Linked DNA regions of Homo sapiens. The protein of the gene in region 1 interacts with the protein of each later gene in a pairwise test. Each region holds a gene or a part of one and is shown on either strand. Other genes may lie near its edges.

The links. The genes of interacting proteins can lie anywhere in the genome.
Region 2: the proteins of FKBP6 (region 1) and BDNF interact in binary tests that used the Homo sapiens proteins (3 or more experiments, as listed by UniProt).

What each region holds. Positions count from the first base shown.
Region 1 is NC_000007.14:73,334,621-73,338,169, forward strand, and holds part of FKBP6 (inactive peptidyl-prolyl cis-trans isomerase FKBP6), read left to right. Parts: intron 1-3,549. UniProt on the Homo sapiens protein: Has an essential role in spermatogenesis. It is required to repress transposable elements and prevent their mobilization, which is essential for the germline integrity.
Region 2 is NC_000011.10:27,690,450-27,693,998, forward strand, and holds part of BDNF (neurotrophic factor BDNF precursor form isoform a preproprotein), read right to left. Parts: intron 692-3,549; exon of another isoform or gene 657-691; intron 1-656. UniProt on the Homo sapiens protein: Important signaling molecule that activates signaling cascades downstream of NTRK2. During development, promotes the survival and differentiation of selected neuronal populations of the peripheral and central nervous systems.

The DNA of each region.
Region 1 (3,549 bases):
AAAAAATAAATTTTAGAAAATTGAAGGGCTATTTGTTCTTCCCCTCCCTAGCATTCTGTTCTTGTTTCATGTGTATATTATTTTATATATTTAGACTGTCGATTATAATTTAATCTCATTCTTTTTCTGTTTGGTTTTTCTACATATTGGGGACTGTGTCCTTTTGCACTAAGTTTGTCAATGACCTAAAGATGGTTTATTTCTCACTCATGTAAAAGGCTAGAGTAGAGGCATGCAAGCTAGGGCCAGTTGGTGACTCTGCTGCAGATATTTTCAGATACCCAGTTCTCATTTCTGGGGTGAGACTCTGGCCTTGTAGTCCAAGATGAGGGTCTCTGAGTTCTAGCAGCAGAAGGGAAGAAAGGCTGAAGGCATGTACAGCTCTGTTAAGGAAGGTCCTTGTCATATGATGCTTCTACTGAATTATGTTTTCCAGAACCTGTTCTCCAGGCTTTGCCTAGCTGCAAAGAAGCCTAGCAAATATCTAAATTCTGGTTGTACGTGTTCCTGGCCAAAAAAAAAAAAAAAAAAAGTCCTATTACTGTGAAGGAAGGGAGGGCAGCTGCTGGGAGGCAGGAGGCCACCTCTTTCACAGAGGGTTTCCTCAAATGGCTGGTGATCTTTGACCACTAAGATTTAAAAGAGACATCACAAAGCTGATTGGGAGCTCCAGGTGCTTGGTGGGGCAGGTTGCAGTGTGGTCAAAGACAGCCTGCACACATTAGAGTATGTAGGTGTTTCCTCAGGGTCCATTGAGTCCTCCTCTTTCTGCCCCGTGTGTGTGCCAAGGGACCGGCATTCTGGGAGCCAAGCTGGGCAGCAGGACAGAGGTTCTCACTGTCTGGTATTGAGATTCCTTTTCATAGCCGCGTTACCAGTATACCACCTTCCTGCTGTCTGCTCCAGCCTGCCCCCAAGTCAAGGGCCTCTTTGGTTCCATTTTCCCAGAAAGGAGACCTCGTGATTGCTGAGGCCATCTGGACACATAGGGGCAGTGGACGGGGTGGGGAACATTTGACCTGACCTCCTTTATTCAGCCCCACCAGATAGCTCTAATTCCTGGTTCCATCAGTTCCTAGGTCTCTCCAGGCTCTGAGGGGCAGACCGGTCCCTTTTACATTGGCACCACTCTGCCAAATCAGTCATCACACTGCCACCCACCCTGAACCTTTGGGTTTATTGGTCCTTTTCCTGTCCTTTGCTTGTGTTGGAGTACTACCTGTCTTAGTCCCTTAGGGTTGGAGAAAGTAGGGATGTGTGTGGAGCCTGCCTTGCTGAGCCAGAGGTTTTGCACGTCTTTTCCTAGTGGAAAGTTTCTCCGTCTTTGGAGCAGCGGACTGACATTGTCAGCACCACTGTGTCTCCACCTTTTGCTCAGCATTGTCTGGGTCACACAAGTATGGGGTTTCCTGCTTTCAAGGGATTTGAATCTAGTTAGGGAGTTAAATGCAGCTCCAACAGCTAACCAATACCTATGGTCTGAATGTTTGTGTCTCCCCAAAATGTGTATGTTGAAACCTAATCATCCATGTGATATTAAGAGGTGAGGCCTCTGGGAGATGATGAGGTCATGAAGATGAAACCCTCTTACATGGAGTTAGTGGCCTTATAAAAGAGGTCCCTGAGAGCTGTCTTGTCCTTTCCACCATAAATTCTCGGCAGGAAAAAAGATGAACAAAGTGATCAGAACCTATTCAGGCCACAGTTGGTAGATTCCTAGTCAGAAACATAGGTTACATCTAAGGAATCATAGGTGATAGGAGGCGGCCAGATTCAGGAAGACATTCAAATATGTGTGGATGGATTTGGACTTGATGAAGTGGATGGCAGGGAACCACTGAGGAAGAGTGTGTTGATAAAAGTCATATTCGGGGAAGAGGCAGTAGTTGTGCTGGAGCTCGTGAAAACTCAAAATTTCAATTGTAAAATTTTCAGGAGTTTTGTGCCCTCGTTAATGTCACTTTGGTAGTTTGAAATCAGCTCTGGGAGGAATATTTACAGCATAGGAATAGGCAAATGCTACAAACAGGGGTCCACCTCCCCCGAGAGCTGGCTATTAAACATGTACCAGCACACCACTGTGTGCAGGACATGTCAAATGACAAACTTCATTTTAATGAGGCTCTGTTTCATGTTAGGCACCGTGCTGGGTGTGCTGCGGCTGAACCTGTTAACAGGGTCCAGGAATGTGTTAAAGCAGCTGTGAGTTGTGCAAATAGAAGAAAAAGCTCTGGAAGTACTTCCACAAAATGGATGGTTAGACTTGATGACGTTGTATATGATGAAGTTGTATATATAAGAGATCAAGGAAACAGAAGAAGGGAATGACTTGAAACTTCCTGGTCTGAGAAAAAAATTTAAACCAAGGAATAACTGGGAAAGAAATGTGTTACTTTCAATTTTGATTACTCATGGGAATGAGCAGGTAAGCAGGGCCTGTAGAAAACTGTTTCCAGCTGACAACTTGCTTCACAATTTCATTTGGGTATGAGAGCAGGGTTCAGGCGTGAGGTTCCAGCTGGTGATGTGAATGGGAGCTGAATCCATTCAGAAGGTATGGAGACAGTTGATGGGAACTTGCCTGGTGAATGCCCAGAGTTTAGAGATGGAAGGGAGGACCAAGGAAGGCTCATGACTTTCTGCCTGTGCTGCCATCTCCTGACACATTTTCTCCAGTTCTTCCATGTTCTTTTTTTTTTTTTTTTTTTTTTGAGACAGAGTCTCACTCTATCACCCAGGCTGGAGTGTACTGGCGCCATCTCGGCCTCACTACAACCTCCGCCTCCCAGGTTCAAGGGATTCTCCTGCCTCAGCCTCCCAAGTAGCTGAGATTACAAGCGCCTGCTACCACATCCAGCTCATTTTTTGTATTTTTAGTAGAGGTGGGGTTTCCATGTTGGCCAGGCTGATCTTGAACTCCTGACCTCAGGTGATCCGCCCGCCTCGGTCTCCCAAAGTGCTGGGATTCCAGGTGTGAGCCATCGTGTCCGGCCTTCCAGTTCTTCCATTCTACTTGCACCTTCCAAATGGAGTTCCAGGGAGTGCAGGCTCTGCCTTCATCCATTTTTTTTTGTTTTACTATTTTTTTTCTTGTTGTTGAGATATGATTCACATACCATAAAATGTGTGCTTTTAAAGTGTCCAATTCAGTGGTTTTTAGTATATTCACAAAGTTGTGCAGCCATTGCCACTATCTAATTCCAGAACATTTTCCTCACCCCGAAATGAAACTCACAATTCTTTGGCCTCAGATAGCCTCTGTTCTCCTTTGTTTCTATGGATTTGCCTATTCAGGACATATTTTGTAACTAGAATTGTCAAATATGTGTCATTTTGTGGCTGTCTTATTTCACTTAGCATGTTTTTGAGGTTTATCCATGTTGTAGCTTGTACAAACCTCATTCTTTTTTTGTTTTTTGTTTTTTATGAGACAGAGTCCCTGTTGCCCAGGCTGGAGTGCAGTGGCACGATCTCGGCTCACTGCAACCTCTGCCTCCCAGGTTCAAGCGATTCTCCTGCCTCAGCCTCCCAAGTAGCTGGGATTACAGG
Region 2 (3,549 bases), on another chromosome or scaffold:
CACACACACAAACTATGCACAAGTTTGCTTCCATGTTGTATAGCAAGAGTTTAAATATTTCTGAGTTAATGATGCCAAACTGTGCTCCGATTATATCAGCATATTTACATGATCCTTGAACACCACATATAGATTCCTATACTACACATTTAAGCAAAATCACCTCCTGACTTCACAATGAAAGAGACCTATTGGATTAAAAAGTGGTTTCTAGTAAACCCCAAAGAGATACTGTTACTAAATTACTAAATTTAAAGGCAAAATAGTATTCACTAAACTGATTTTTCTGTCTTATTTTCCTTATTTGGCATAATCATTAACCAACTTCTAGTAAATGGAAGCATTCTCACAATTTAAGTTTTTTTAGGGGGAAACACACAATTTATAAATACTGTCAAGTGAAGAACAGATTCCTGAATACTAAAAGACCCATGCATATCCTTGTATGTAAAAAAAAAAAAAATCCATCATAAAATCATAGACTCAAACACCATCTTTGATTCAGTAGTTCTCCCTCTACTGTGGCTTCTGCTATAGAGTCATTGTTAAAAAGAGTTCTTCATGAAAGATTCTCACATAGCAAAATGCTTTAAGAAAATGTCTAACAAACATTTTTATTGTCTCAATTTGTACACAAACTGACACCTGAAAATCAGAGAGGATAAAGAACTTCAATCTTTAAAAAAGAGAGGTAAGTTATTCCAAAATGCTACCAGTCAATAATTAAAAATACAGTTTGGGGGCAAGAAGTTCTGAAATAACTCAGAGAACTTGCTCAAGATTTTACTTTTGGACCAGTCCTCTTTGGGAGGGAGTATGTGAATAGGTAATGAAAGCCTTATATGAGAGAGTCAATGGAGAGCCATATCAAGGAGCACCTGAAGATATATGGATCAATACAGGGAAAAGAAATCCAAGTAGCCCAGTGCCTGACACTCACTGGGCACTCAATTAATGCACGGTGAATTAACAAATGAATTAATGAAAGAACCATTTGCTACATATAACATTCTTACTTTAAGAAAAAAGAATTTGAAACAGAAGAAAACATACACGCAAGAACACATACAAACTATAAACTATATGATATCCTAAAGGAGATGTAAATATTAAACTGTTTGCTTTGCTGACTGACACTATTAATACCTAAAAGCAGTATGAGAGATCACAAAGAATAAGTACTCATTCATACTTGGAGTGGGCTGCTCATCTTATGGTCTAACTTGCATTTTATGTCATGGCCATGTTGCTTAATCTCCAGCTGTTCTACAGAAGAGCAAAATAAGTTATAAATAAATTATTAAAGAAAAAAAGTAACTCTATCCATGCTGAGGCCTGAGGGAGTTGGGGGAGGAGTCAATTCCTTTTAGTTTATATTTAAAAAGAGAAACTCTTTGGAAAACTGTAATATCTGAAGATTTTGTGGTTTCCAAAAGTGAAGGTGAACGGTGAGAAGTTTTCTTAGTTTAGCTACTGAACCCTAAAAAAATATAACCTCAAAAGTTAATTTCTTAAGCAATTTGGGCACCTGAATTTGATAAGAACTTTTTTTTCCAGACATTCTGTTCTGTCTAACCCAAAGGAAAAATAGCCAATTTTGAGAATCTGTATACAAATAAGGAAAAGTAAAATACAGCGCTTTGCAAAGAAATGGGAGGGATTTCTGATACTCAATTCATGATGCTAAACACTTCAAGTAGATGATTCAAAGGCAGAAATATATAACTGTTCTCATTAGGATTGTTTATGGACTATAAATAAGGAGCAGACTTATGGCCAATGCATTAGAAAAAAACAAGTACAAAGGCACTTCAGAAAATACCTTACTCCAACCTCCCATTTTAGTGTCATTTCTAAAAGGGTTTCATTTCAGCCTTCCTACCTTTCTTCCTTCCTTCCCTTCCTTCCCTCCAACGGGGTCTCACTCTGTCACCCAGGCTGAAGAGCAGTGGGACAATCACGGCTCACTGCAGCCCCAACCTCCTGGGCTCAAACGATCCTACTGCCTCAGCCTCCCAAGTAGCTGGGACTACAAGTGCCTGTCACCAGGCTTGGATAATTTTTTTTGTCTTTTGTAAAGATGGGGTCTTGCTATGTTGTCCAGACTCGTAATGATCTCCTGGGCTCAAGTGATCCTCCCACCTCAGCCTCCCAGAGTGCTGGGATTACAGGCATGAGCCACCACACCAGACCTCTTTTTTCTTTATTATATATTCCTCTAATAAAGTGCTCTGTATGCAGTGAGCATTCAATATTTGCTAAATTAAATTAATGGAAAGTTTTCTAACTACCATGTAGAGTATCTAAATTTACATCATTGGTTCTAGAACTGCTGTCTGAAGCAACACAAATTACACTTATGACAGTTCGTCAAATCTTTGAAGCCCATCCTCAAAATAAGGATGTCAAAAATACATCACACATGTTGACACTCTAATCTCCCAGCCACAGTAGGCATTAGCAATCTGAATGTTATTTTTACTAATCCTTCACAGTTTTAGAATTCTTCTCAACCCAACATTCAAAAACCACTTGCCATTCCAGCCTAAGTTTTCTTGTCCCTAAGTCATGCATTCCAAGTCCCCTCAACCATTGCTCACATGCAATGCTTTCAAATTCCCTATGCATCCTGGTCACAGTGATTTGAATGTACACTAATTTATCGATGATGTACCTAAAACAACTTATTTCATTTCCTTGAACTGATGATAATATTCTAGATACAGTCTATTTAAAAAGTGAAGAATTATTAGCTTCTCCATTTCAGTATTATATTTCTAGCAGTGCAGCCCAAAATTTCAGTAGCTATGATAACAGCCTCTTGTCACACCACTGGCTTATACTGAACTTGCAGTTAATTTAAAACATTCAAGCTTCCTTTCTACAATCTGCTGATAAGTCATCCCCTAAAACCGTGCCCGCAACTCTCTATTCTCTCCTAAATTGATTTTTTTGTACTTAATCATAGTATTTTACATTTAAGTAAATGTAAATGATCCAGATTCTATCATTCAACAGAATGTCTGCAATATCTGCTGGCTTTATGTTTCATATGATAAGCATATCGTCTGTGCCTTCAGACACATTATCAGCCAACATGTCGGTGCTGGATGTATTTTCCCAATGTTGCATAAGAGGAATACCTTCGAGAGTTTGGCCTAGGAATGTGGCCTGGGACTCCGCCAAGCATCTCTCTCCAGCAAAATGACTGCAAATTTCTCGACCTTCAGATTCTACATGATGTAAAAGAAGTTTGTCTGTGTTTAAAAACACATTCAAGAAATAAGTGAACATGTGAAAAGACAGAAAAACTTGTTTTAATTTGGGCATAGTTTCAGTTTTCAAAGGCACATGAAGGCAGAAAGAAAGAATCACAAAATGGAACTACTGATGATAGCAACTCCAAAACCAAGACTGATTAGACTAAATCCCATGTGGCAAAAATTTTATTTAGTAAGTTTCCTTCTCCCTCTCTCCCTTTAGATATATGTGCATACACACACACGCACCTTTATTTTAGTAATTTTTTTTTTCTGAAAAAGAAAGTTT